6 separate regions of the Homo sapiens genome follow, and regions 1, 2, 3, 4 and 5 are each reported to be linked to region 6. The links are microRNA targets in miRTarBase. Many come from high-throughput screens and were not tested one by one. Region 6 holds a microRNA gene; each other region holds the end of a gene's coding sequence.
What was found. Region 6 holds the annotated microRNA hsa-miR-3915 (UUGAGGAAAAGAUGGUCUUAUU, at 3,003-3,024, opposite strand). A microRNA usually pairs through its seed, bases 2 to 8, with sites in the 3' UTR of a target mRNA and lowers its output. Matches are read on the target gene's strand: a 7mer-m8 pairs with bases 2 to 8, a 7mer-A1 pairs with bases 2 to 7 and ends in A, and an 8mer does both.

Region 1: the mRNA of OXR1 is a reported target of hsa-miR-3915. Seed matches in the 3' UTR shown: 8mer at 3,934-3,941.
Region 2: the mRNA of ZNF3 is a reported target of hsa-miR-3915. Seed matches in the 3' UTR shown: 7mer-m8 at 775-781.
Region 3: miRTarBase lists MIER3 as a target of hsa-miR-3915. Seed matches in the 3' UTR shown: 7mer-m8 at 3,930-3,936.
Region 4: the mRNA of CSKMT is a reported target of hsa-miR-3915. Seed matches in the 3' UTR shown: 7mer-A1 at 1,590-1,596.
Region 5: miRTarBase lists ALDH4A1 as a target of hsa-miR-3915. Seed matches in the 3' UTR shown: 7mer-m8 at 1,104-1,110.

The regions. Positions count from the first base shown.
Region 1 is chr8:106,750,634-106,755,708 of GRCh38, reverse strand. OXR1 (oxidation resistance 1) reads right to left here. Exons shown (of 17, transcript NM_001198533.2): 17 at 3,015-4,903. The coding sequence ends at 4,768. Among named protein-coding and RNA genes, the nearest start is that of ABRA, 17 kb to the left of the region's middle.
Region 2 is chr7:100,066,824-100,071,898 of GRCh38, reverse strand. It overlaps ZNF3 (zinc finger protein 3), which reads left to right. Exons shown (of 6, transcript NM_032924.5): 6 at 1-1,926. The coding sequence ends at 756. Among named protein-coding and RNA genes, the nearest start is that of ZNF3, 12 kb to the left of the region's middle.
Region 3 is chr5:56,918,937-56,924,011 of GRCh38, forward strand. MIER3 (MIER family member 3) reads right to left here. Exons shown (of 13, transcript NM_001297599.2): 11 at 4,979-5,075; 12 at 4,755-4,897; 13 at 667-4,649. The coding sequence ends at 4,192. It also overlaps a transcript of SETD9 not described here. Among named protein-coding and RNA genes, the nearest start is that of SETD9, 12 kb to the left of the region's middle.
Region 4 is chr11:62,666,050-62,671,124 of GRCh38, forward strand. It overlaps CSKMT (citrate synthase lysine methyltransferase), which reads left to right. Exons shown (of 3, transcript NM_001043229.2): 3 at 347-2,059. The coding sequence ends at 1,002. It overlaps LBHD1 (LBH domain containing 1), which reads right to left. Exons shown (of 7, transcript NM_024099.5): 2 at 3,833-3,992; 3 at 3,592-3,754; 4 at 1,474-1,698. The coding sequence starts at 3,982. Among named protein-coding and RNA genes, the nearest start is that of UQCC3, 3.1 kb to the right of the region's middle. RefSeq lists enhancers at 281-390, 441-490, 511-610, 4,308-5,049, 5,050-5,075.
Region 5 is chr1:18,868,369-18,873,443 of GRCh38, reverse strand. It overlaps ALDH4A1 (aldehyde dehydrogenase 4 family member A1), which reads left to right. Exons shown (of 15, transcript NM_003748.4): 15 at 487-2,014. The coding sequence ends at 599. Among named protein-coding and RNA genes, the nearest start is that of TAS1R2, 11 kb to the right of the region's middle.
Region 6 is chrX:32,580,709-32,585,783 of GRCh38, forward strand. MIR3915 (microRNA 3915) reads right to left here and starts at 3,044; the gene lies at 2,948-3,044. All of the region lies in intron 13 of DMD (dystrophin), which reads right to left. RefSeq lists an enhancer at 1,873-2,500.

The sequences.
Region 1 (5,075 bases), not on the chromosome of region 6:
GAGCTCTTCCAGGTTAAAAGAGATTAAAAAAAAAAAGGGCAGAACAATTGAATGCAATGCAGGATCTTTGGATCATGAACCAGGAAAAATAATGCTTGAAAGGATATTATTAGGGTCACTGGAGAAATTTGAAATGAATTACATATTAGACCATATTATTGTATTAATGTTAAATTCCCTGAATCTGATCATTGTACTTTGGCTATTTAGGAGGACATCTCTGTTCTTAGGAAATGCATACACATCTTTATAGGTAAAGTGAAACAATGAGATGCAGTAAATTAATAAGTAGGGTGTGTGGGTATGTGTACAGGAGGAGAGAGGATGGGAAGTGAAGAGAGCAAGCAAATAGTTCTGTAAACATTCCAGCACATCTCTTGGTAAACACATATACATATTACTGTTCAGTACATATCACTGAATTAAATTTGCTGGTCAAAGTCATGTGTATACTTAGCTTTAGTGGATACTGCCAGAAACATTTTCCAAGGTTGTTCCACTCTACATTCCCTTTTAAAACAGCTTTCAGTTTTGGGTTTTACATTTAAGTCTTTAATCCATCTTGAGCTGCTCTTTGTGTATGGTGTAAGGAAGCCGGGGTGATTCTTCAAAGACCTAAAAGCAGAACTACTACTCAACATAGCAATCCCATTACTGGGTATATACCCAGAGAAATATAAATCTTTCTACCATAAGGACACATGCATATGAACGTTCACTGCAGCGCTATCCACAACAGCGAAGACATGGAATCAACCTAAATGTTCATCAATGACAGACTGGATAAAGAAGATGTGGTACATATATACCATGGAATACTAAGCAGCCATAAAAAGAATGAGATCATGTCTTTTGCAGGAACACGGATAAAGCTGGAGGCTATTACCCTTAGCATACTAATGCAGGAACAGAAAACCAAATACTACATGTTCTCACTTATAAGTAGGAGCCAAATGATGAGAACTTATGAACACATGGAGGGAAACAACAGACAAAATGGTCTACTGGAGTGGGGGTGTGGGAGGATGGCAAGTAACAGAAAAGGTAACTGTTGGGTACTAAGCTTAATACCTGGGTGATGAAATAGTATGTACAACAAACCCCTGTGACACGTGTCTACCTATGAAACCAACCTTCACATGTACCCTCAAACCAAAAATAAAAGTTGGAGAAAACAACAGCTTTCACTCTTATTGGACACCTTCTTACTTTCAATGATGTCTTTTGATGAAGTGCTTAAAGTTTTAATGTAGCATAATTTATTTTTTTCCTTTATATTTAGTGCTTTTTGTGTCCCATTAAAGAAATATATGCTTACCCTAAGGTCATGAAGATATTCTCCTATATAAACTAATGTCTTTATTGTTTTGCTTTTCACAATTATTTTTCAATCTCTAATTGTTTGTGGTGTGAGATAAGACTTTTTGTTCCATATAGATATCCAATTAATCTACCATCTTTTTTTTTTTTTTTTTGAGACGGAGTCTTGCTCAGTCGCCCAGGCTGGAGTGCAGTGGCACGATCTCTGCTCACTGCAAGCTCCACCTCCCAGGTTCATGCCATTCTCCTGCCTCAGCCTCTCGAGTAGCTGGGACTACAGGCGTTCGCCACCACACCCGGTTAGTTTTTTGTATTTTTAGTACAGACGGGGTTTCACCGTGTTACCCAGGATGGTCTCGATCTCCTGACCTCGTGATCCACCTGTCCTGGCCTCCCAAAGTGCTGGGATTACAGGCATGAGCCACCACACCCGGCCTAATCCACCATCTTTTATTGAACAGACTGTCTTCTTTACTGAGCAGACAGCAGTATCACCTTCTTCAGAAATCAGTTTCTTTCTGAACTTTTGACCAATATATTGTCTTTCTTACTCAGCTTTCTAATAAATCATGATTATCTGATACTGAAGACCAGACACTCAATTCTTCCATGATGGCTTAGCTATTCTTTGATTTTACATTTCCATATAAACTCTACAATCAGTTTAATTTCCAAAAAATAAGCCTGGGTGAGATTTTCACTGTCAATATAATTTAAGAGAACTGATATCTTTTAATCAATATTGTCTGCCAGTAATGAATATGGTATATCCTTCCTATTTTGGTCTTCACTTTGTTATATATCTGATATTTTCAATGGTATTACAAATGGTAATACATAAATTTCATATTTGTTTGCATATAAAAAGTGAAAGAGTTTTATTGTTTTTTGTTGACTTTTAAAGTTCATCTTTCAGAATAGTATATAAAATGTCCTACTCCCAAAAAGTTTATTCTCCTGTTTCTCACATCATACTCTCATAAAGTCCACGACTAACTTCATTTTGCCACCTGCTTTTTTTTGTTTTTCCTCTATGTACCTTGCCCATCTTGATAAATAATACAACTAAACTCTTAAATCAAAATCCTGGGAGCTATCTTTAACTTTTTCTGACATCCAATCAATAATCAACTCCTGTTCATCCTAACTCATAAATCCTTTCCAAATCCATGCTTCCTTATTACCATTACCACTGTTCTTATTCGGGCCTAATCATTTTTTTTCTGGACTTTATAAAAGGCTTGTTTTCCCCTTGTCTCTAGTTGTTCCTTCTACTCATCTATTTTTCACAGATATTTTCCTAAAGTATACACCTGATCATGTCATTCCTCCTCTCAAATGTTAACTGAACCTACGGGATACAAAATATCAAAATTTCTTGGCATTGCACACACATAACTGTTTATGATAAGGGGCTTAGCTTGTTATGCATTCTCCACCCAAAATGAAAACAATGTACTTTAAAAATATCAAATAACTTACACTTTCCCATGTGTCAAGTGCCTTCTCCCATCTCCATTTTAAAAAATGTAATGCTCCCTCTAATTGAATGCATTCTCCTATCACTATTACTCCTAACACCATGACCACCACCACCACAATGTAAGCTATTAGAAGCATTAAAAAAAAAAAGATAGTAGTAGGCTTAATCAAAGACTTGTTAAGAAAATGAGTATTCAATAAATCCAAACTCATTTGTATTTCTGTATTTGATTTTATTTGGTATATGCCACTATGACCTTATTTTAGTAGAAATCCATTACAGGATTTTTAAATTATCATTAGTCAACTCCACAAAGACAATAATACTGCTGTGGAAGACCGAAGGGGAAAAAAACTGATATATTTATTTACAATTCCCTATATTGTAAACATTTAATCTATATATTGTTACTAACTTATAATGAGACAAGGAAATGATGCCCTGTATTTCTATTCATATTCAGCAATAGCATATTATAATAGAACATCAGATTTTCTTTTCCATTAGCATTATGCTTTCTTTAAATAATTATCTAAACTTTCAAAAGAACTAAATATGTAAGTGCTATACAACTAAATCTACTTAAGCCAAATATTTGGCTTATAATTTCATTTTTAGAATAACTTAAAGTGCTATAAGCAACCTGGCAATCAACACTTTCTGTAAGAACAAAACTACACCTTTAAACATTAATTTACAAGATATACAATGTTTATCTGGAATAGCTGAAATTTCAGCACAAAGTCACTGTCACATGTATAACAGCAGGATTCTTTTTTGCATAACATGAAGCTTTAAAATCAACTGATGAATTATTGCCACAATGGCTATTATTGGTTTCCTACAAAAGAGGATAAGAACTACTAGTGTATTCTATCTTTTCATTTTTTTTTTGAGGTCACTTGACAGTAAGTTTGCATATTCAACAAGTCTACTGAGTTACAATATTGTCTACTATAATCATTGCCCTTTATAAGAGCAAATGCTAATGGTAATTAATAACATATACCACTCAAAGAAAATCACAATTTTTTTTTTCCTTTTGAACAAGAGTAACCTATATTTTGGGAGTTGGTGTGCAATAAGGCTAAAACAACCAAATTATAAAACAGTATACCTGACACAGTATGTTGAGGAAATATGCATCTGTTTCATAGTTTTTGTACTTATGTTAATGCCTTACTAAGCTACACATATGTAAATAGTATGTTTTCTTGCTAATATATTAAATCCAATAGAATCATTAAGTTCTCATTCTCCTTTGTGACTTGTAACTTTATCAGATAATTTAATGATGAAAGCATATGCCCAAACCTGCAGATCATATGTACTGTCATCTATTACAACCAGAATTCTCCTCACATTTCATTTTTCTTAAAAGGAAATTGAGAATACCTGCAACATCGTTAAAGAGAATGTTGTAGTGTGAATAAAAACTAGAACTCAGTGGTCTATGAAGTATGTATTATTTTGGCAAGTGATTTTTTCCTTCCTAAGAATAAGATGAACATGTCCAAATGTTACCTGTGCCAACTTCACAGATACAGAAGTATCCAGTCTTCATTTCCTCAATGCCCCAATTAGACTGTTCTAGTAAACGAATCAATATAGTTAAAAAAAAAAAAATCAATACAGGTTCAACAAAAGAGCACCATCCTATTAGGGAACTGAGTAACATGTGAAAATGAAGTTGTCATTATAATCAAAATGTTGCCCAAATTCTAACAAACCCAAGCTGTTATACTAGTACATGGACGCAGTCCCTAGTGTTAACCTAAAGAACTCTGGGACAAGAACATGATTTGAAAAATAAACTCCAAAATTATAACTGTAATAAATGGTGATACAGACTAATTTTAAAGCACAAGTGACATGTTACACTGTATTGCTTCTTGAACTTTCCAAACAATGCTTGTCCATGTCAGGTTTGGGCCATTCTCCTGCTAAGACAGAGAGCATTTTATTTATTCAAAAGCCCAGATTTCAATATCTTGGATAAAGAAATCTTCCTTCTTAGAAAGTGTACGATTCCCAAACGTTTTACAAGAATGGCTTCTTCCATGGTAGAGATCTCCATCAAGCCAAAGCGCAAATTCTCCTCTGCAATACATAAATAATAATCTGTTAATATTTATGCCTTAAGTTATAAAACAATTTAAATGAGACTTTGAATACCTAACAACCCTAAAGTTATTAATTTTCTCAAATCCTTCCCTACTCCTTTCCACACTGACACAATTTTGTTTTACTCCTATTCCATTAAAAAATTATT
Region 2 (5,075 bases), not on the chromosome of region 6:
GGAGACAGACCCCATAAGTGTGATGAATGTAGCAAGAGCTTTAATCGAACTTCAGACCTTATTCAACATCAGAGAATCCACACTGGGGAAAAGCCCTATGAATGTAATGAGTGTGGGAAGGCCTTCAGCCAGAGCTCACACCTTATTCAGCATCAGAGAATCCACACTGGGGAAAAACCTTATGAATGTAGTGATTGTGGGAAAACCTTCAGCTGTAGCTCTGCCCTCATTCTGCATCGGAGGATCCACACGGGGGAGAAACCCTATGAATGTAATGAGTGTGGGAAGACCTTCAGCTGGAGCTCCACCCTCACCCACCATCAGAGAATCCACACTGGTGAGAAACCCTACGCCTGCAATGAATGTGGGAAGGCCTTCAGCAGGAGCTCAACCCTTATTCACCATCAGAGAATCCACACTGGAGAAAAACCCTATGAATGTAATGAATGTGGGAAAGCCTTCAGCCAGAGCTCACACCTCTATCAGCACCAGAGAATCCACACTGGAGAGAAGCCCTACGAATGTATGGAATGTGGAGGAAAGTTTACCTACAGTTCAGGCCTTATTCAGCATCAAAGAATCCACACCGGGGAGAACCCCTATGAATGTAGTGAGTGTGGGAAAGCCTTCAGGTACAGCTCGGCTCTTGTTCGCCATCAGAGAATTCACACTGGAGAGAAGCCTTTGAATGGGATCGGCATGAGCAAAAGCTCCCTCAGAGTTACGACCGAGTTAAATATCAGAGAGTCCACGTGAAAGAGCCACACACCCATTTTCCTCACTTTCCCTGAGTCTCAAGAGCTCTTGCCTTACCCTATAAATCTCAACAGCTTAGGATGTGTCCCTTTCAACTCAGACTTTTCATTTTAGAGAATGGGGCAGATGGGGCAAATCGTTGAATTTTCCCAGAAATCACACCAGCCTTAGAAAGCGTCAAGGCAAGTGGATGGCGTGCTGGGAATAGAAAGCAGCTCTGGGACCAGTTACCCCATTTAGGAAAGGAGTTTGCACTAAACTGTTTTTCTCACAGCAGAGGAACCTTTCCAAGGTGGGGATGGAAGCACAGTCGGGACAGAATTCGATGGATTCCTTTAGTTGGAGTCCGCGTAGTCAGCACAGACAGCAGTGGAAAGGACGCTCTGGGTCCTGTTATTTGCTAGGGAGGGTAAAGGGAGACTATTTCAAAGCTACTGTTCCTAGTCCAGCTTTAAGTTTCGGTAAGAAACATGCTGTTTTGTTTCATGATTTCGTTAATTATGGAAATTTGGCATTGAGGGATTATTTTATTGAGGGTAGAAGAGATTCCAGAATCATCATCTGTGATGATGGTGTCCTTTAGGGCTCTTGGAGCAGCCAGACCATGTTTCCAAGAGAAACCTGGTGATATTGCCAGCAGACCCCCTGCCATCCCCCCCAGTTGTCCTGGGGCTGAATGGGCAAATCTGTCCAAACAGCTAGTAACCGGCTGTGAGGGAGAGGGTCAGAAGCACTTAGCGTTGGCCTCTGATTGCTGTCCTCTCTTGTCCTCTTCCCACTCCAATGATGAAAATGATTTTCTCTAAATGCCTGGGTAAGGATGCTTTCAAGGAGCTCACTTGGCCTGCTTGCCCTGCCCTCTCACCTCTGACACCCAGCCCCAGGAGCCAGACCACTCCTGCCTCCACCTCTGACTCTTCAGCAGCTGAAGATTAATGCAGAGAAAGAGCAAAGCCCAAAAGGGAGAAAAAAAAAACAAAAAAACAAAAAAACGAAGCCCAGAGAAGGCAGGCTGTGCCTGAGCCTGGTAGCAGAGCTCGTTGCTGGGTGAGGATGGCACTCCCCGAGTTTTCCCAACCGACGGGATGACCTTCCATTGTGTTTTCCCAACCCTGCTCATCCTGTAGCATAAATGAAGTGCACTATTAAACAGAATAGTTTTTCAGAAGAGATTGAGTGTGGTTTTGTGCAATGTTTGGACCATATATTTCAGTTAAAACAAGACATGTTGGCTGGGTGCAGTGGCTCATGCCTGTAATCCCAGCACTCTGGGAGGCCAAGGCAGGCAGATCACCTGAGGTCTGGAGTTCTAGACCAGCCTGACCAACATGGAGAAACCCCGTCTCTACTAAAAACACAAAATTAGCCGGGCATGGTGGCACATGCCTATAATCCTAGCTACTCAGGAGGCTGAGCCAGGAGAACTACTTGAACCCGGGAGGCGCAGGTTGTGGTGAGCTGAGATCGCGCCATTGAACTCCAGCCTGGGCAAGAAAAGCGAAACTCCATCTCAAAAAAAAAAGACAAGACATGTTGGTAACTATAAATGGAATTTGAAAGTTGACTTAATTTTTTTTTTTTTTTTTTTTTTGAGACAGAGTCTAGCACTGTTGCTCAGGCAGGAATGCAGTGGCACCATCTTGGCTCACTGCTGCCTCTGCCTCCCGGGTTCAAGCACTTCCCGTGCCTCAGTCTCTAGAGTAGCTGGGACTACAGGTGTGCACCACCACGCCCCAGCTAATTTTTGTATTTTTAGTAGAGATGGGGTTTCACCATGTTGCCCAGGCTGGTCTTAAACTGAGCTCTAGCAATCTGCCGGCCTCAGCCTCAAAGTGCTGGGATTATAGGCGTGAGCCACCATGCCTGGCCCTAAAATTTCTTTATAGGCTAGGTACAGTGGCTCATGCTTATAATCCCAACACTTAGGGAGGCCAAGGCAGTAGAATCTCTTCAGACCAGCCTAGGCAACGTGGCAAGACCCTATCTCTACAACAAAATTAAAAAAAAAAAATTAGGGCTGAGCGCAGTGGCTCACAGTTGTAATCCTAGCACTTTGGGAGGCCGAGGTGGGCGGATCACAAGGTCAGGAGTTCGAGACCAGCCTGACCAACATGGTGAAATGCTCTCTCTCCTAAAAAAAAAAAAATTATATATATATATCAGCCAGGTGTGGTGGCACGTGCCTGTAATCCCAGCTACTCAGGAGACTGAGGGAGGAGAATCGCTTAAATGCAGGTGGCAGTGGTTGCGGTGAACCAAGATTGCTCCATTGTACTCCAGCCTGGGCAACAGAGTGAGACTCCATCTCAAAAAAAAAATTAGCTGGGTGTGGTGGTGCACACTTGTGGTCCCAGCTACTCGGGAGGCTGAGGTGAGAGGACTGCTTGAGCCTAGGAAGTTGAGCCTGCAGTGAGCCCCTGTGATTGCACCACCACACGATAACAGAGCAAGACAGTCTCAAAAATGAAATGAAATTACTTTATAGATTGCCATTTTTTTTTTTTGAGATGGAGTCTTGCTCTTGCCCAGGCTGGAGTGCAGTGGACCAATCTCGGCTCACTGCAACCTCAGCCTCACTAGTATCTGAGATTACAGGCGCCCACCACCACGCCCAGCTAACTTTTGTATTTTTAATAGACAACGGGATTTCACCATGTTGGCCAGGCTGGTCTTGAACTCCTGACCTCATGATCTGCCTGCCTCGGCCTCCGAAAGTGCTGGGATTACAAGCATGTGCCACTACGCCCAGCCTATGCAAATAAATTTTAAATCTGTGTTCTCATGGCTGTAATCCCAGCACTTTGGGAGGCCAAGGCGGGCGGATCACGAGGTGAGAGTTTGAGACTAGCCTGGCCAACACGGTAAAACTCTGTCTCTACTAAAAATAGAAAAATTAGGCTTGGTGGCACATGCCTGTAATCCCAGCTACTCGGGAGGCTGAGGCAGGAGAATCACTTGAACCCAGGAGGCAGAGGTTGCAGTGAGCTGAGATAATGCTGCTGCACTCCAGCCTGGGTGACAGAGCGAGACTGTCTCGAAGAAGAAGAAAAAAACCTGCCCATGTCCTGATGGCTCTCCCAAGCCTCAGTCGTGGGTCTCCAGTGGACTGCAGAGCAGTTACACCTGGACTTTCTACAGTTTCATAGTATGTTTCAAACCAGATCCCACTTTCCCATTTATTGCCCCCTCTTAAAATTTCTGTAAACCTGTCAGGATCAAAATTTTGTAAGTTTTCTTTGATTATACTCCTCATCCTCCTCCATCTAACCAGCATCAAGCCTGGGCAGGTTCAGTAAAGATGGAGTGGAATGATACTGTTTTCAGAGTTGAGATTGTAGAGGAGATGGGATTTGCAAGTGATGGTAGCAGTAGCTGATACATGGCATATACTCTGTGTCAGCGTTGCCTGGCTCTTTTCCGAGTGGTTTTCATGTATTAATCAGCTGGGTGCAGTGGCTCACGCCTGTAATCTCAGCACTCTGGGAGGGTAAGGCAGGAGAATCGCTTGAACTCAGGAGTTCAAGCCCAGCCTGGGCAACATAGTGAGACCCAGTCTCTACAAAAATAAAAATTAGCTGGGCGTGGTGGCACACATCTGTAGTCCCAGCTACTCAGGAAGCTGAGATGGGAGGACTGCTTGAGCCCAGGAGTTGGAAACTAGCCTAGGCAATATAATGAGACCCCTGTCTCTCTGAAAAGAAAAAAATCCAATACTTGGCGAGGAATGATGGCCTACAGTAAATGAGGTAGAGCTGCTAAAATGATGAGCAGAGAAAGGGTGTCAGCAGACTCAGCGTGTGTTAAAATGAATTTCTTACACGAGATCTGAGAACCAAACACCTATGTTATCTCGGAAGGCCCAAATAGCTTCCCGTTCACTCAGACAATAAAGGATGAAGTGAGGGGAGCACCGGGATTGTTCAGTGACAGCTGCCTCAGCAGGGTTAATAGTAGGAGATTCTGCCACAGAACAGAGTTCCCTGTTATTAATGGGATGACTGGTCAACAGAGGCCAGGCGGCAGCACTGAGCTATCACAGGCAAAGTGGACACAATTACCATGATGGGCAACCAGGCCAGAGTGGCAACTAGGGTGATTTTTTTTTGAGATGGAATCTTGACACTCTGTCACCCAGGCTAGAGTGCAATGGCATAATCTCGGCTCACTGCAACCTCTGCCTCCTAGGTTGAAGCAATTCTCCTGCCTTAGCCTCCTGAGTAGCTGGGACTACAGGCGCACGCCACCACACCTGGCTAATTTTTGCATTTTTAGTAGAGACAGGGTCTCACCATGTTGGCCAGGCTGGTCTCAAACTCCTG
Region 3 (5,075 bases), not on the chromosome of region 6:
GGTCAAACTATGAATCGTATGGATAAGGAAGACTAGTTGACCATAAATGTAGTCTGTCAAATAATAATAATATTTGACCAAATTTCAGATCTGTCTGTCTTCATAAAAGACAGTTACCTAGAACAGCGTTTGAAACATAATAAATGTTTCCTGAATTAAACTAAAAGTATAATCCTTACTTTGGGACTTCTTTTTTTTTTTTTTTTTGAGATGGAGTCTCAGTCTGTTGTCCAGGCTGGAGTGCAATGGCAGGATCTCAGCTCACTGCAACCACCACCCCCAGGGTTCAAGCAATTTTCCTGCCTCAGCCTCCTGAGTAGCTGGGGTTACAGGCATGCGCCACCTCGCTCGGCTGATTTTTGTATTTTTAGTAGAGACGGGGTTTCACTATGTTGGTCAGGCTGGTCTTGAACTCCTGACCTCATGATCTGCCCGCCTCGGCCTCTCAAAGTGTTGGGATTACAGGGGGACTTTTATTATAGATGGAAATTATAGAGGATTTAAGGAAAATATTTAATCTACCAACTTCACTATCTATCATATATCTTATTTACTGCATCTAAAACCAATTTAACAGTGGTATAATATCTATCTATTTGCTGTAGCTTAAGATTCATTAAATAAAATATCTGTATTTTTGGCAAATATTCACACAAACCAAGAAAAAAAGATTCCCAGATTTTTATTTCTGGAACTGTACACCAGGTATTAAAGTACAACAAATACAAAATAATGCTCAAAAAAATCAGTGTTTATGTACAAATATTAAAATCAATGCAATAGCAACTTCCTCTTGAACATCTGATACTGAAACTTGTTCTGATTGTCACTAATTTATCTCATACTCACAGGGTACTTATTTCAAACTGGGACAATTGGAATCACTGGTCATCTAAGAGGAATATTAATATCTACCATATTTAACAATAAAACTAATAGTTTCCTCCATTTAGTGAAAAAATTAGGAACTTTTTAAAAAACATAGTAACGTCAATATTTTATAAATTATTTCAATTTCCATTTGTAGACAATGTGCTTTGAAACTCTGGGCAAACAATCTCCTTGGTGGTCAGGTTTATTTGTTAGTTTACATTCAAAGTTGAAATATTCACTAGAGACTTTGGTTAAATTAAATAGTATCACTATGCTCTATTAGATCTGATGTTCTCAAATATTTATGAGCCTCAACATTTTAAAAATTAAAAAGGAAATGATTGCACAATTCTTTGATCTAATTGTACAAATTTTAGTATTTTTTAAACAGTATTCTACATCCTTCAAGTAAATTCAGCAGCTGACCATGACAAGAGGAAAACTAAACATTTAAAAAGCTAGCATGAAAAAGATGAAGTACAACTAACAAATGTATTGCTATAATCACAGCACCAGTTACACTTCTAAATGAATCCACTGTCCTTTTCAAATTCCCTGTACATAAAAGATATATCAGCCAACACTGCAACTGCTCACCATGAATTTTTGGTTTGTTCATAAGAAAATAATGGGGCAAAGGAAAAAAAAACAAAAAGAATTTATCACAGTTTGTTATAAGAATTGTGCTTAACACTTGATAATAAAGGCATTATTGTTTCTTCACATGATTGCAAATCCGGTTGTTTTCTTGCTTCCAAATGCAATTCTTTTAATAAACAGTAACAAATTCTCTGTTAAGATGTTTAAACTGAGAGAAAAAAAAAACCCAGTAAATCCAGCTTTTAAAAGAAAATTCAATAAATAGCTATTTTACATGGATAAAGTCATAGTGGTACAATTTATGAATGTCACATCAAGCATGCACAAAAATGGTATTATACATGGCAGAAGTAGTCAGAAAATATTGAATTAGATCTAAAAAGATATGAAGAATTTACACTTATATACAAAAATCTTGCAAATTATTGCCTCATTTTAACAAGGAATTAAAAGTAAACATTACCAGCTAGTTAGCACTCTCTAAGAGGCTAAAATCAGATTGACATTTAAAAATCTATTAAACTAGCTGGAATTTATTTTTCTCTCATACCATTTTCTGGATTTTGGTCAAAAATCTTTATTTAAATAACTAAAGTGTCCATTCAACTTGCTGATAATCAAAACTTTAGATAAGAAACACTGTTTCCATCTTATATCAAGACCCCAGCAATGCATAGATAAACTGAATATATTACTGCATCAGCTACTGAGAATGGGCATGTTCATTTAAGTGCAACTGGTATTAGCATTCAGTCATCTTTGTGTAAATTATTTATACAGACCAGCCACTGTAAACCCAGAGTGAAAATTAAGGTTATAACAATGGAAGATTATGGCCAGTATCTTACTAAATTATAGAAAGTGTACTGATTTTTAATAAAAGAAATAAGGTTCAAAGTTTAGCACAACAACACAGCAATAAGAAGCTGACAACTTGGATAAAAATACAAGAAAGTAACACAGAGCCCAGGCTACCCATTATTTACTGTGTGCATACAGGAATGCTATACTTCAGATGTATAAATTAGAGACTGATTTTAAGTTATTAATTTAACTACTTTTTGTCCACTGTGCTAAACTAAATTTTATACTAATGTGCTACTGCGTAAACACTTCAAAGCAATCTTCATTAAAATGCTGCAAAGAAAAACAAGAATACACATCATCCAAAACTAAGGATGTCATTGCAGTTCACAGTTTGTATAATAAATACCCTCCCTTTCAATCACTACTAAGATCACTACATCCTATCTACTCATCAGCACAACCTTGAAGCAACTTATACTTACAAATATTAGCAATGCAGCCAAACATTTGTTTTTTGCAAAGCAACTAGTAAAAATCAAGAATTTTAATTAAGACGGTGCAAACAACATAATTCTCTATTTTAACAGTACTACAAAAGCAAAGATTACATCCTAATACTGTATTACATATTGTTTGATTCACCTTATAACTTAAAAATGCATGTTTATAGCACAAAAATGGCCAAAGTTTAGGACAATGGCTTCTCATTCACAATATTTGGAATAAAAATAAAACTGAGTTTGAGATACATCTGAACATCTATCAATTTTTAAAACTTAAAAGTGGTAATGTACCATTCTATTTCAGATAGGAACTCACATTATTCTTGCCAACTGTTCAAGCTTAACAAAAAAGCTTAAATATACTTCAAGGTTCTACTGCATTAGGTATAAAATCTAGAAGTCCCTCTAAATATTAACACTTTGAACTGCAGTGCTACAAACAACTTAAAAGATGTCCCAAAATGTAAACCATTGAGTGGCAACATCCTAGGCTTTGTAGACTGTGCCTCTGCAAGTCGACTGCCTCAGGATAAACTAAATTATCAATGACTGGTATGATTTTTAAGATTACAATCTTGACAATGGTGGACAAAACCCCATCTGAGTACCACATCTTCAAATGCCAAAACTGTAGCCAATAAATGAAGTTACACAGAAATCTCCTGGCAGTAACATGACCAATTCTGTGTAAGGTAGCCCTGGTCTAGAATTTTGAAACAGGATCCAAGCAAGCGTCTTCATTATTTGCACACAGTTCCTTGTGCTGGCTTCCATAAAGATGGACTTGCTGTTTTGTAAACTGAAGTGCTCTAGTTGAATAACATGAGAGAAGTTTCCATTTTTAAAAAATCCTTGCATGTTTGTGCAGTTTAAAGAAACCTACCCCTGCTTTTATTAAGAAAATAAAACCAAAAAAATGCTACATTGAGCAGGGATCGGGATCGGTACCTGTAAACATTGTTATTCCACTGCATCCATTACGGCAAAAGGAATTTACACAAAAACAGGCCACACCATTCAGTTCAGAACATCTGTGCTGGTTTTGAGCTGGTGGCCTCTGTCTACAGGTTTTAAAATTGGGAGTGAGGGCAGTGGGGAACACAAAAGAATAGAAAAAGAAGGGAGTGGGGAAGAGGTATTGGGAGATGAGGAAGAGAGAAGCAGAGCTTAAAGCTGCACCACAGAGTTCAATCTTAGTTCCCAACTCTGCTGATCATAGTTCATTTCCACATTTATGGATTGAAAAATGAAAATACTCTTGATAAATCAAGATATAGTTCTATACATACTGACATCACTGATGTCATAGTGAGAAAGGTTCAAACTTCCAGTGAAAGACTATGCAAACCTGATAGCTCCCCTCAAGTTTACTGGTGCTGCACACGCAGTTCCGGGATCCTCACTCAGGTCACTCAGAGTGTAGGGCCGCGTGCTGATGCAGAGCATGGGCACTGATGAAACCATTGGTCTCGTTGGCAGAGAGACTGCCAAAGTCAGCCACAGAAACAGCCATTTTGGCACTGGTGATGTGATGTGTGTGATTTTCAAAGTCCACACCCAGGTTATTTACAGAAACTTCATTCATAAAGGATTCAGGGACGGCAATGCCCATTTTCAATCTTTTTGCTGGTCTCTCTGACTCTTCACTGCACATGTTCATAGGGTTTAGCTCCGAGTGATAAAATCCAGTCTCAAATAAATTAAAACAATCACTTTCCCCATTGCTGGGCAGGGTGAGTAACTCTTCTGTTACAACAGGCACATGATTAACTTGTCCACGGGGTGTGTTGCCCAGTGGAGGAAAGCTATCATCCAAACAATTCACATCTGTGGGGTCGCAGACGGTTGCTACACTGTTGGTCAAAGCTAAAAAGGAATGGAAAATTGTTTAAGTAAGTGGTCCTATGACATCAAACAGAGGACACAATTTTGCAACAAACTGTACTAAATGCAGAAAGGTCTTCATTTTACCTGTCAAGTCACTGGCAGTGAAGGAGTTGAGAATGTTTAGCTGTTGATCAGGAATAGGCTCAGGCCGGTTAGAAGTTAAGGCTGAAGCATTTACCGTCCCACCCAAAGCTTCTGTTTCATCTACTAAACGATCCATATAGTCCCTGAAAAACACACCCCAGTAATTTTATGACTATATATTACAGTTAAAAGTAAGTCTTTGAAGGCAAGGCCACAGTACTTACGTAACTCCAGGGTGATGGTTATATCTTTTTTTCCCAAATCTTGTCTGTTGAGCAAAGTAATCATAACGTTCAGATTTCTTCCACATATAGTAGAATG
Region 4 (5,075 bases), not on the chromosome of region 6:
CTCAAACCCTACGGTGGGCCGTGCGTGGTGGCTCACGGCTGTAATGCTAACACTTTGCCAGGCCGAGGCGGGCAGATCGCTTGGCCCAGGAGTTCGAGACCAACCTAGGGCAACATAGCGAGACCCTGTCTACAAAAAAAATTAACCGGGCACGATGGCGCCTATAGTCCTAGCTACTCAGGAGGCTGAGGTGGAGGCTTCAGTGAGCCATCATTGTGCTACTGTACTCAACCCTGGGTCACAGAGTGAGACCCTGTCTCAAAAAAAAAAAAGACGCCAGTGTGTATATACGACGTTTTTGCAGTGGCGACATAGACCAAGTGACACCCTCCAACCGTGCCCACAGGCTCACTGGCTGATAGTTGCCTGGCGGACCGCTGTCTCTGGGATCGGCTGCATGCCCAGCCTCGTTTGGGCACTGTCCCCACCTTCGACTGGTTCTTTGGATACGACGAAGTCCAGGGGCTCCTACTGCCATTGCTGCAGGAGGCACAGGCTGCCAGTCCTCTGCGAGTGCTGGATGTGGGCTGTGGGACTTCCAGCCTATGTACAGGCCTCTACACCAAATCTCCACACCCAGTGGATGTGCTGGGGGTGGACTTTTCTCCTGTGGCTGTGGCCCACATGAATAGCCTCCTGGAGGGTGGCCCAGGCCAAACACCTCTATGCCCTGGACACCCTGCCTCAAGCCTCCACTTCATGCACGCCGATGCTCAGAACCTGGGGGCTGTGGCTTCTTCAGGCTCTTTCCAACTACTGCTGGACAAAGGCACATGGGATGCTGTTGCCCGGGGAGGTCTGCCTAGGGCTTACCAGCTTCTATCAGAATGCTTGAGGGTTCTAAACCCTCAGGGGACCCTGATTCAGTTCTCAGATGAGGACCCTGATGTGCGACTGCCCTGCCTGGAACAAGGGTCCTATGGCTGGACTGTGACTGTGCAGGAGCTAGGCCCGTTCAGGGGCATCACCTACTTTGCTTACTTGATTCAAGGCTCTCATTAAAGACATTTTAGTAGTCCTGACCCTAGTATTTCTGTGGGCAAGGAGAGGGCTGAAGAACTGTCTTTGCAAGCTATCTGGCTGCAAAGTGAGAATTTGAGTCCTGGCTTCCACATTTACTAGCTGGGTGCCATATTGCTGAATGTTTCTGTTCCCCAGTTTACTCATCTGCAGAGTGAGAATAACTTGGAGTTACGGAGATTACATACAATGATGTGCGCAATATTTAGCACAAAATGAATGCTGAAAAGAGAAGGTACAATTGGGTCATTCCCCAGTTTCAACTAACTGGAGCTCCTAAAAGCAGCAGACAGGAACTGAATCAAAACCCCTGCGCTGACTGACTTGTATAATCTAGTGGCCTAACCTGTAAGCCTCATTTTTGTCACCTGTAAAAGGAGATTGTAAGAGGATGGGTATAAGGAGCTTCATAAACCTGGATGAGATATTTGAGGGGGAGGGAACAATACTTACCCTCAAAGCTATTAGGAGGCAGGAGATGGGAATATTCCACAAAGCCACTTCTACAAACACGGGAGCCTGTTGAGTCCCAGAAGGGACAGTGGTTGGTGGCTTCCAGACATGCTGTGTCCTCAAGAATCCAACAAGCATCTTCTTCATCCTGGTCCTGCCCCCAGCTGAGTCCAGCGTTAAATGTTCTTAAAGGACTTCTAGGGTCCTGTGGGCTCCAAGCCCAGCCTGGGATGGAGGAAGAGAGGGGACAAAAATATTACTGATATATTATCAAATTACAAAACTAGGCCAGGCATGCTGGCTCATACCTATAATCACAGCACTTTGGGAGGCCAAGGTGGGCAGATTGCTTGAGCCCTGGCAATAAAGTGACACCCCTAACTCTACAAAAACAAATGAGCCCGGGATAGTGGCACAGGCATGTAGTTCCAACTACTCAGGAGGCTGAGCTGGGAGGACTGCTTGAACCCTGGGAGGTCAAAGCTGCAATGGGCCATGATAAGCTGCTGCACTTGAGCTAAAAATTAATTTCTGTGGTATTTTTTGCTTATAAAAAAATAGAGCAATTATATCACTAAGAGCCTAACCTCGCAGCCTCAATTTTCTCATTTATAAAGGGGAAGTACCTTCATTGGGTTGTTCTGAAAATCATGAAGTAAAAGTGTTTAGCATAGTACCTGGTACATAGTAAATGCTCAAAAGAATGTAGCTTCTTGGGAGGCTGAGGCGGGCAGATTGCCTGAGCTCAGGAGTTTGAGACCAGCCTGGGCAATATGGTGAAACCCCATCTCTACTAAAATACAAAAAAAATTAGTCGGGCGTGGTGGCCTGAACCTGTAGCCCCAGCTACTCAGGAGGCTGAGGCAGGAGACTTGCTTGGACCTGGGAGGCAGAGGTTGCAGTAAGCCGAGATCCTGCCACTGCACTCCGCCTGGGCAACAGAGGGTGACTCTGTCTCAAAAAAAAAAAAAAAAAAAAAAGTAGCTTCTGTAACAGTACACAGACGGGGCCGGGCGCGGTGGCTCACGCCTGTAATCCCAGCACTTTGAGAGGCCCAGGCAGGCGGATCACAAGGTAAGGAGATCCTGGCGAACAAAGTGAAACCCTGTCTCTACTAAAAATACAAAAAAATTAGCTGGGCGTGGTGGCGGGTGCCTGTAGTCCCAGCTACTCGGGAGGCTGAGGCAGGAGAATGGCACGAACCCAGGAGGCAGGGCTTGCAGTGAGCAGAGGTCATTGCCACTGCACTCCAGCCTGGGGGACAGAGCAAGACTCTGTCTCAAAAAAAAAAACCAAAACCAAAACAAACAAACAAAAAAACAGTACACAGAGATGAAAAAAGTCTAGAAGAGAAGGTATCGAATATGTAAACTATTTTTAGGTAGTTGGTCTTGGGGTAATTTTTTTTGTTTTTTGTTTTTTTTGAGGCAGAATCTGGCTCTTGCCCAGGCTGGAGTGCAGTGGTGGGATCTCAGCTTACTGCAAACTCCACATCCCGGGTTCACGCCATTCTCCTGCCTCCCGAGTAGCTGGGACTACAGGCGCCCGCCACCACGCCCGGCTAATTTTTTGTATTTTTAGTAGAGACGGGGTTTCACCATGTTAGCCAGGATGGTCTCGATCTCCTGACCTTGTGATCTGCCCGCCTCAGCCTCCCAAAGTGCTGGGATTACAGGCGTGAGCCACCGCGGCCAGCCTTAATCTGTACTTTCAAAATGTTTACATTGCTGCAGGAAAAGATAAAATTACCCCAAGACTGGCCGGCTTGGGAGGCTGAGGCAGGAGAATGGCGTGAACCCAGGAGGCGGAGCTTGCAGTGAGCTGAGATCGCGCCACTGCACTCCAGTCTGGGTGACAGAGCGAGACTCAGTCTCAAAAAAAAAAAAAAGAAGAAAAAGAAAGTACAGATTAAAGGATGGCACCCATTCTGATACCAAAACTGCTCTCTACAATTCATCAACTTTGCCAGCTGCCTTTTCTCTCCCACATCTTCACATTTATTGAGCACCTGCTGTGTGCCTGGCACTGCTGAATGCAGGGGCCGTAACTGACTTCCATCTTGGCTCTGCCCAGAACATTCAGCTCACAGTGGCCCCCTGAATGAGCCACCTCCCTCACCTGGCTCTTCACTTTGGTCTTGGAAGAAGGCCTCAGCATCCTCTTCCTCACCATCAGTGAGCAGCAGCAGCTCCTCATGGGGCAAATGGAGATCCCCACTCTCTTCATTCACCTCACTGGATTCCACCACAATAGACGGCAGATGGGACTTTTGAGAGAAATCCTGAATAGGGACAGCAGGGAGGTTGGGCCAAACTGGAGGGTAAGCCAGCTGCCAGACACAGGCTGAGGAAGTACTAACCTGAATGTGCTGGTGACCTTCAACCTTGCCAATTTTTCCTCTGTCCCAGAGAGGGTTGGGCAGCCTGGGACTTTCTGGATGCTGGGAGGAGCCTGGGCTATTTCTAGTCCAAAGCCCATCCTCCTTGCTTCTCCCTGGCACAAGGGCCATGGTGGTGATTCTTAGAGTGCAAGATGATTGAACTCAGAGGAGAGTACTGCTGCCCAGTGCACCCCACAAACTGTTCCTTTAATCTTCTTTGGAGCCTGGCCCCTTAAGCACCGACTGTGCTAAGCGATTATACGCTTTCAGGGGAGGGGAAAATGCCCAAGAGGTGAGATAGGATCTTTATTTCTACTTACTCCCTGGAGACACTGGGATGGCAACAAGGGTAGGAGACAAGGGCACCTGGATTAAAGCCCTGTGGGCCAAGAGTTGTGATAACCAACTTGGAATTTCCTGACTCCTATGCTTACTGATTTTTCCCAACCTGGTATGTTTGTATGTTATTTAATGAATATTTATATGGTGTTTACTCTTTGGCAGGAGCTGTTTTAATTGCTTTACATATAACTAATTTAATTATCCTAAAACTGTGAGACAAGTACTGTTGTTATAAGCTTCATTTTCTGATGCAGAAACCGGGGCACAAGAACTTGCCTATAATCAGTCACACAGCTAAGAGGTGTTTTCTTCTGTAAAGCAGAATTCAGTATGTTACACGAATCCAGCCTTTTAGTGGTTGAAAACAAAGCAAAACAGCCGGGCGCGGTGGCTCACACCTGTAATCCCAGCACTTTGGGAGGCCGAGGTGGGCGGATTGGGCGGATCACGAGGTCAGGAGTTCGAGACCAGCCTGACCTACATAGTGAAACTCTTTCTCTACTAAAAATACAAAAAATTAGCCGGCCGTGGTGGCGGGCGCCTGTAGTCCCAGCTACTCGGGAGGCTGAGGCAGGAGAATGGCGTGAACCCGGGAGGCAGAGCTTGCAGTGAGCCGAGATCACGCCACTGCACTCCAGCTGGGCAACAGAGTGAGACTCTGTCTCAAAAAGCAAAAAAGAAAACGAAGCAAAACAAAAAGCAATACCAGCCGGGCGTGGTGGTGCACGCCTGTAATCCCAGCTATCCGGGAGGTTGAGGCAGGAGGATCGCTTGGGCCCTGGAAGTCGAGGCTTCAGTGAGCCATGATCGCGCCACTGCACTCCAGCCCTGGGCGACAGAGCGAGACCTTGTCTCCAAAAACAAACAAAACCACGCCCAC
Region 5 (5,075 bases), not on the chromosome of region 6:
ATCCTGCAAGAGCCCTCATTAGCATAAACTCATGTGTGATTAGAAGGGGCTTGTTATGAATAACGGAAGACACTCCTTTCACCCCCATCACTCTGGAAATTCCAAGAGCTTTAGGAATTCTGGCTAGGAACCAGGGGTGAAGGCTAGATATGTACCTCTTATGGCACCCCAGGACCATGCCAAGTCCCTGCCTCTCAGTCTAGTGTTCTCTCCACGCCACACCCTGCCTCTTAGACATCCTCGCATCCCAGCAAGGATGCAAGGCTGGGTGCGACTGGAGAGAACAATGGAGGCTCCCCACAGACTGGAGACTGGAGGCAGGGTCTCCTGTCCATCCCTCTGGCTCTTCTGCATGCCCCAAGCTTGGCAGCAGGCTCGCTGCTGGCCGCTACACTGCTGGTCCGTTGATTCCATCATCTCCTCCCTTCCCCTTCTGCCCAGGCTGTTGCATCTTTTCAGAGAAAAACAGAAGTGTCTTTTCCGCAGGAACCAATGACAAGCCAGGGGGCCCACACTACATCCTGCGCTGGACGTCGCCGCAGGTCATCAAGGAGACACATAAGCCCCTGGGGGACTGGAGCTACGCGTACATGCAGTGAGCCCCTCTCGGGCTCCACCGTCCAGCTGTCTGTCCGTCCAGGTGGCCGACCTCACTGCACAGACCCCACTCCAGCCCCTCCACCCCTTCTTCATGCACAGCTGCCTTTCTATAATCCGGGCTTGACTCCCTTCTTACCACTGTATTCTGGCCTCTCCCATGCCTCAGGCTCTGGTTTGAGATCGTGCTGGGGAGGAACATGGCCACTACCCCTTATCCCATCGGCCATGTGGGAGGTATGACCCTGGTGCCTGGCAGGTTCTCCCTCTGCCCTCCACTGGGCCCAGTGGCTCAGGGACCTGGGGAAAGGAGATGGAGCAGCTCTTGGGATCCTTTGGGGAAAAGGAGGCCATTCTGGGCCCCTTGGCAAACCTCACCACTCACAGAGGCTCCTGGCCTTGATCCCTGCCCCTCCAGGTGTCCAGGGTAAAGTGTAACTCAGACTGACCTGTGGGGCACAGGGGGCACCAGCTGGCCTTGCCCTCTCTGGTCTGGGCTGTCTACCTTCCTCACTGTATCTTTGCCCAGACCCACCTGGGCCAGTAGGCCCCTGTCCCCAGCCACACACCTTAGATGCTGGCATGCCTTACTCCAGGTGCCTGTGTTTGGCCGAGGCCTGTGTGATTCCCGGTCTGCACCACATGGCGGGGTTGGGGGGCCGCTGGAGGCCACCTGCCAAGGCGTGGGATGGGATGGTCCTGCCGGTTTAGGCCGTGATTCTGGAAAACCTTGGATGGGCCTTCGTCCTATGTCAGCCTTCCCTTTGATCCTCAGGCCCTACCTGTAGAGACCTCCACTCCTAGAGCCAGTCTCAGGGTCTGGGATTTCCCTGCAGGAGCTCAGCCACCACTGTGCCATGGTGACACAGGCCAAGGCAGACATTGGCCCTCCCTTCTCCCAGCCCCCAGAGGCCTGGCCTTGGGTTCGTCAGCATGGGCCGAGGACGTTGCCTGTAGAATCCTCCTCTGCCTGGGAGTGGCTCTGTGTGGACCAGTCCCTCACTGGCCCATTCTTTTTTTGACGCAGCCAATCTGTGACCACGATTCCTCCCACAGATGCCTCCTGCTTGGATTCTGAGTGGTCAGAGATCTGTAAAGCATGACTTTCAAGGATGGTTCTTAGGGGACTGTGAAAGTGTTGGGTCTTCCTCCAGGATGCCTGCATGGGACCCCACCCGGAGCTGGTGTGGCCATTCCCCAAGTGCCACTGGCCCATGGATGGGGGTGGGTGCTGGTGCCAGCTGGGCTGGGTGTGGGTTCTGTGTCCTTCCAGGATATGTGTCATTTCCCATGAGGGGCCGGGGCAGGTGGCTGGGTGGGGGCACAGGCTGGAGTATTCTTAGTTCTACTGGTTCTACACTGTGAGGTGGCAATGGGATTTGCTCAGATGCCACCCAATAAAATGCCTGTTACTTAATCACAGTGGTGGATGGTCTTTCTGGAGGGGATGGTGGGGGCAGCCAACATCTTTTAAGTCTGGTGTCATTGCCAATGTGTCACCTGGTCATGGGCACAGTGCTCTCAGTGTGACAGAAGGAACAGTAGGTGCTGATGTTTGAAATTGTCTGTTGGAGGCGGTGGGGCTGGGTTCACATCCTGGCTCACTGCCCCCCCGCCAGCCAGATGATTGCCACAAAGTTATGCAACCTCTCTGACCTTCCATCTCTTCATCCATAAGATGGGGTAACCGCCCCCTCTCCCCGCCATGGGTCATCATGAGAATTGAATGAGTTAACACTTCCACATGCTTAGAATAGTGCCAGACACATGATGATTCAAAAATATTACCCATAAGGCCGGGTGCGGTGGCTCACGCCCGTAACCCCAGCACTTTGGGAGGCCGAGATAGGCGGATCACTTGAAGCCTGGAGTTTGAGACCTGGCTGGCCAACATGGTGAAACCCCATCTCTACTAAAAATAAAAAAATTAACCAGGCATGGCAGCATGCACCTGTAATCCCAGCTACTTGGGGAGGCTGAGACAGGAGAATCTCTTGAACCTGGAAAGCAGAGGTTGCAGTGAGCTGAGATCACGCCACTGTACTCCAGCCTGGGTGACAAAGTGAGACTCTGCCTCAAAAAAAAAAAAAAAAAATACCCGTTACCCATTTTCGTTGTAAGAACCACTATCCTGTGTGGTGATGGTTAATTTTATGTGTCACTTTGGCTGGGCATGGTGCCCAGGTATTTGGTCAAACATTCTGGGTGTTTCTGTGAAGGTGTATTTGGATGAGATTAACATTTAAATCAGTGGAGTTTTAAAAGTAAAAAGCAAGGCAGGTGACCGTTCATCCTGTGGGTGGGCGTGGTCTAATCAGCTGAAGGTCTTCATAAAGTGAAGAATGAGCTCTCCACGCGGGAAGGAATTCTGCCAGCAGATTCCCCTTGCACTGAATCGCTGCAGCTCTTCCTTGGGCCTCCAGCCTGCTGGGCTGCCATGCAGATTTTGGACTTAGTAAGCCTCCATAATCACATGAGCAAATTCTTAAAACCTCTCTCTTGCTCCTGTTCTGTGTCTCTGGAGGATCCTGATGAATATGTGTGCTGAAGGCCCAGTATGTTTCCTTACAACAGCCTTTGGAAGGAATTCTGCCACCCTCCCATTTTGGAGAGAAGGAAATTTAGGTACAGAGGTCAGGGGCCTTCCTGGGGGTATGGTATTGCTGAGACGTAAACCCTGGTCTGTTGGGGAAGGATTCGTTCCTGGTACAGCCACAAGAAGGCACATATGACTGCTGTCTTGGAAAGACACGCTCAGCTGGCCAAACGATGACTGAGAGGAGCCACTGCAGCCAGTTAGCTTGAGCCCAGGTCTGTGGGCCCTAGCCCATGCAGGCCAGGTGACTTGTGGAGGGGTGGAAACATGTGACCTGGCCTGTTCCCACCTGCCCATGATGTAAAAGGGGCTGTTTTGTAAACCACACTGACACCTCCAGGGACAATAGGCAATACCCAGAGTGCCCCAGGCTGGAGCACAGAAGGGAAGGGTGGCAACTGCATTTATAGTCGTGGGACCAGCAGGCTGTGGATGTGTTTGAACCATTGGTGTGACTTGCTTAAGATCACACTGAGACAGAGTTGGCTAATTACTAAATGCTTTACCTACCTGGTCACTTAGAGCCTTGGCAGTGACCTTACCAGGTAACTGTGGCAGGACCCACAGAGGTCAGAGGTGGGATAACTAGCTCAAGCTCACGCAGCTGGTTAGGAGGAAGGCTCGGGCTTGCACCCGGGTCTGCAGCTGCCCACGGCCCACGCTCTTCGCCACCTGCTCCATTGGGCTCCTGACTTCCAAGCTCCTCCTCTCCTAATATTATTTTATCCAACCTTCCTCAACCTGTCACCTTTGCCTCCTTTTGGACTAGGGGTGACTCAAAGCTGTTGCTTACCCTGTTCTCTCTCCTCTACCTCGTCCCCTAGACTTGGGGCTGGTGGCTCTTGAGGGCCCAGTGCCTGCTCGGGGACCTGAGGCCTCTTTGCATGGTCACCACAATAAGTCCCTGTGTCTGCGGTGGCCCAAGGAGCCCCTTCATTTCCCTGCTGTGGCCAGGGCCAGGGCTTGGAGCGTGAACCATTTGACTGAGGCCGGATGTCCCTGCCACCACTGTCCCACGGGCCGCCAGTGGAGCATGCCCTCTAAGGAAATGAGGGGCCACCTGTGCTGGCTGCAGGCCACCAGGCTGACCCAGAGCTCCTGGCGGGGGGAGTCAGGGGAAGTGGCAGGAGGCAGACCCACCCTCTCCAGAGAGTCTTCATTTTCACTAGTTCGTCCCCGACCCATTCATCGTCTTACTTCCTGGGTGTTCTGTTTAGGGGCCAGATTAGTAAATAACAAGAGCCACCATTGTTTGAATGCAGGCTGTGTGCCAGGCATTGGGCTAAATGCTTCGGGCATCATGGCCTCGGATCCTCATGGAAGTCTCATAAAGTAGGTGCTGTTACTCCCATTTTACAAAGGAGGAAACTGACACCAATGGGTTAAGTAACTAACATGCCAGTAGGAAATGAACAAACTGGGTTTTAGTCCCACACCTCTGACTCCCAAGCCCCTGGCCATAACCACCACTGCACAGTGCCCTGGAGCTGGACAGGCGCTGGGCTCAGATCCCAACCTTAGCGTCTTGTTCCTGTGCCTTGACCTCCCAGCTTCAGACTCCTCCAGGAGCTGAGGACCAAATGAAATATTTAAAAACAAAACGCTGCATCCCATGGCCTGCCAGGGTGAGGTGCCCAATCAATGTGAACTTTTAATTTTCAACCTCAACACTTCTTCATCCTAGATATGTGTGTTCCCCAGGAAAGAGGAGAAGCCAGATTTAAATGAGCACCTATCAATAGGCCAATCGTTCCTACAAATTCTCTTGGACCACACCGGCCTGTGAGATAGTATTTTAGCACCATTTCACAGATGAGGACTGAGGCTTAAAGAGGTGAAGAGAGACCTGCTTAGTAAGGGACGGGGGCAAGAGAAGAACTTG
Region 6 (5,075 bases):
TTAATGATAATTTTTTTTGCATTTTTTTCTATACTTGATAAAGCTTATGTTTTATACAAGAATTGAAAATTTTTACCTTTACAATTTTAAACAACAGGGCCATATTCCAATAGGTATCCTTTTTTTCTTTTTCTTTGAGACAGAGTCTTTCTCTGTCCCCTAGGCTGGAGAGCAGTGGCGCGATCTCGGCTCACTGCAACCTCCACCACCCAAGTTCAAGGGATTCTTGTGCCTCAGTTTCCCAAGTAGCTGGGATTACAGGTGTGAGACACCACACCTGGCTCTTTTTTGTATTTTAGTAGAGATGGGGTTTCACCATGTTGGCTGGTCTCATCTCAAACTCCTGACCTCAAGTGATCTGCCCGCCTCGGCCTCGCAAAGTGCTGGGATTGCAGGCGTGAGCCACTGAGCACGGGCTCCAAAAGGTATCTTATTTGAAAGCAAGTGCATAGAAGATAAATATCCCTCTATGTCTCATGCCAACTCTTGACATCACAACTTTTCATCCACAAGAAATCACAAATTCTAACGTACATACCTAATAAAATGCATAAGATAATGTAGGTGTAACAGAATAGGTAGTAATGGGGACTGTGGCTAAATGAAGAGCCTGTGCTAGAGAAAACAGGGCAACTTGACTCCTGCTCTGGTTACTATGTAGAAAAACAGACTAAGGATCATCAGATCATTTGCTTTCTCTAGAGAGGTTAGAAATTCTTAGTTCATGTCACATTTTTTTCAATTTCAAACAATGGTAGCTAATAAACTACTATTAAATACCATAGGGACTAAATAGAACTTTATCTAAATACATCTGTAATTTTAGATGCAATAGACCAATTCCTAGAAAGACACAAATGATTCGAGCTGACTCCAAAACGGAAAATCTGGAAAAATGTAATGTTGAAATTCCAATTAAAAATGGACATTTTTATGTGTATTAAATACATAAAAATTTAATTTTAAAATTTCCCATTTGCAAATTCCAGTTATGAAGCCAGTTACCAAGCCTGCATAATCAGGTACTTAAACCTAGCAAGCATATTACAAGAAAGGAAAATAACAGGCCAATCACTTTCATGGACGTAAAGGAAAAACTATGAATCAAAGAAAATCTAGCAATACACAAAAAAGATTATACGTCTTATCCAGGTTTAGTTTATTACAGGAAGAAAGGCTTTTTTAGCATTAGAAAACTAAGTCATGTGATTTGACATATAGCAGAATAAAGAAGAAAAATACGACCATCTCAAATGATTCTGGAAAAATATATGATAAAATTTGGCATCCGGTAGTGATAAAACCTCTTAGAATATTAAGAACAGAAGGTATCTACAACAAACCTACAGGAAAGATCATACTTAATGATTATTTATTAAAGTTCTTCCCTCTGAGACTTAAAATGAGAAATAAATATCCACAATACTCCCATTGTACTAGAGTATTTATACAGTACAATATGTCAGGGAAAATTAATGACATGAAAAATAATTGGAAAGGGAGAAAGAAAACTGTCATTACTCAAAAACAACCTATATATGTACATCTGAATAATACTACAGATAATGTATTCAAATTATTAAGTAAATGTAGCATGGTACCTGGATACAAGACCAAGAAAAAAAATCAACTGTATTTCTTTATATCAGCACAAATAGAAAATGAAATTTCAAAAATATATTCATAACAGCAAAAATATAAAAACCCAAGAAATAAATCTCAGAGAAAGTTTAAGAGCCTTTACTTTAAAAACTATAAAACATTATTGAGAGAAAATAAAGACCTAACTAAATGAAAGGATTGAAAGACTTTACATAATAAAAATGTTGATTCTGTACAAGTTGATCCAGAGAATAGATGAAATCCAATTAAAACCACAGCAGATTCTTTTTGGGGGCAGGGTTCACAAGCTGTTCTTAAAATTCATATGGAGATCGAAATGGCCAAAAGCAGTCAAGATAATCTTTAAAAAGGAAGAAAATAAAATGGCTTTTACTGACCAACTGACCAAAACAAACTTAATGTGACTAAACTCTAGACAGGCTTTTATTTGACTATAGGCTCCTGACCTCTCTTTTCTTAGAGCGCTTACTTTAGGGAAACTTGCAACCAAAAACATATTCTCTGCCTCTTTGAGATGTAAATCTTCTACAATCCGGGAATATCTTTCTCAAGGACCTAGGAGCCATCTCTTTGAAATGTAATTGTTAATGATAGCACGCCTATCTCCCAGTCTCTGTGGGACAGTAGGAGCCTAACTTCATTAAGTGCCAATTAACAATCACAGATTGCCTAATCACCATCCTAACCCCCTAATATCTTCCAGTATTTTTCTACTAGCTCTCCTCAGTGCTTAAATTCTCTCCTGTCTTTCTTTCAGTAGAAATGATTTCCATCTCTCTCTCCTATGGCAATAGTCTTGATCCATAATTCAGTAGTCTTGAATAAAGTCTTTCTTGCCTGTTTGTCTGGTGCATTTTTTCTTTTACAATATTACCAGATACAGGCTGGGCCTGGTAGCTCACGCCTGCAATCCCAACACTTCGGCAGGCCGAGGCTGGCAGATCACCTGAGGTCAGGAGTTCAAGACCAACCTGACCAACATGGTGAAACCCTGTCTCTACTCAAAATACAAAAAAAATTAGCCAGGCATGATGGTGGGCACCTGCAAACCCAGCTATTCAGGAGGTTGAGGCAGGAGAATTGCTTGAACCAGGGAGGCGGATGTTGCATTGAGCTGAGATCTTGCCACTGCACTCCAGCCTGGGTAGAAACAGCGAAACTCCATCTCAAAAAAATATTACCATATATTAAAACTTGTCATAATGCTATAGTAATTAAAACAATGTGGAATTAGCATGAGGACAGGCAAGTAGAGAAATAAAACTGATTAGAGTCCATAAACTGATCCATGCACGTATAGGCATTTTATTTCTAATATTTTCGTCAAAGATGACACCACAGAATATTGAGGAAAGGATGGTCTTATTGAAAATCTTTGCAATAAGACCATCTTTTCCTCAATATTCTACAGTGCCAACTTGTTGTTTCAGTTGGATCTATATGGGAAAAAATGGACATTCATCCCTTCCTCATACCTGTAATAATAGGTGGATTGTAATACGAAAGGTAAAACAAACAGTTCCTATATAGCAACCCAGGACCATAGCTTCAGAATTTTAAAGTAGAGAGTTTTATTTTTAAACTGAGGACAAAAGTACACTAAACATAACAGAAAATATTGAAGTGAACTATGTTAAATTTAAACTTCTGTTTATGAAGAGATATATCATTACGGAGTGAAAAGGCAAGGTACCCATTCAAAAAGAAAAATGTAATATAAACAGCAAAGAATACCCAGAATATATATATTTTAAACTAAAATAAATCAGTAAGAGAAATATAGAAAATCCAGTAGAAAAACAGGCATTTCAGAGAAGAGTTCATTTAAATGGCCAATAACAACTGAAATAGTATTCCGCCTCACTGGTCATCAGTATATACAAATGAAAAATGAGAGATGACATTATAAAGTCACCAGAAAGGCTCAAATTAAAAAGTTTAACAAACAAGTATTCAAGAAGATATGAAGCAGTTTGTACTTTCATTTACTACTGGTGAGAATATGAATTTATACAACTTTGGAAAACCCTTTGTTAATATCTTGAAAGCTAAATATGCATATACCCAATGATTAAGAAATGCTATTCTTAGGTAAATACCTAATACAAAAGTTTACATATATACACAAAAATATACGTACAATTTATGTTGATAGATGAATTATTTGTAATGCTTCCGAACTGGAAACAACCCCAATTTTCTGAACAGAATATGTAAAATGTGGTATATTCATACAAAGTAATTCTATCCAGCGATGAAAATTAATAAAGTAATGCTATATGCAACATAGTGAATCTCACAAATATAGTATCCAGTGAAAAAAGCCAGTTAAAAAACTGCATATATAAAAGTTTCATTTACATCAAGTTAAAAATATAGCAAGACTAACCTGCAGCATTATAACTCAAGATACATGTTACCTTTGAGGAGATGGGAAGAGTTTATGATACCATAGGGCTTGATGGAGGTTTCCTGGTTGCTGGTAACATACTATCTTTTTCTGGATGTGGAATCATAGTATGTTACTTCTGTAATAAGTCTTTAAGCTATAATTATAACTTATGTCCTTTGCTTGATACTTCAATTTAAAAAGTACCATAAAGTTTGCATTTTTTTTTCAGAACCATCAACAGATAAACAGATAACAGGTTATATATACATAATGCAATGTTATTTGGCCATAAAAAGGAATGAAATATAGCTATTTGCAACAACATAAATGGAACTGGAGGTCATTATGTTAAATAAGCAGGCACAGAAAGACAAATACCACATGTTCTCATTCACATGTGGGAGCTAAAAAATTGGATCTCATAGAGCTAGAGATTAGAATGATAGATACTGGAGACTGGGAAGAGTGTGTGGATGGAATGAAGAGAGGTTGTTTAATGGGTACATACGCTTAGATAGAAGGAATAAGTTCTAATGTTCGATAGCAGAGTAGGAAGACTATATAATTATATACAACAGTGTAACAAAATATCACATGTACTCTATAAGTATGTACAAATATTATGTATCAATAAACTTAAAAATTTTTTGTAAATGTATTAACACTTGCATTCATAAAGAATATTATTGGCCGGGTGGCCGGGCGTGGTGGCTCACGCCTGTAATCCCAGCACTTTGGGAGGCCGAGGCTGGCGGATCACGAGGTCAGGAGATCAAGACCAACCTGGCTAACACAGTGAAACCCATCTCTACAGAAAATACAAAAAATTAGCCAGGCGTGGTGGCAGGCGCCTGCAGTCCCAGCTACTCGGGAGTCTGAGGTAGGAGAATGGCATGAACCCGGGAGGCAGAGCTTACAGTGAGCCGAGATCGCGCCACTGCACTCCAGCCTGGGTGACAGAGCAGGACTCCGTCTCAAAAAAAAAAAAAAAAAAAAAAAAAAAAAAAGAATATTATTGTTCCAGCATACTTGCTTATATTTCCCCTGTAATTTTGTATGG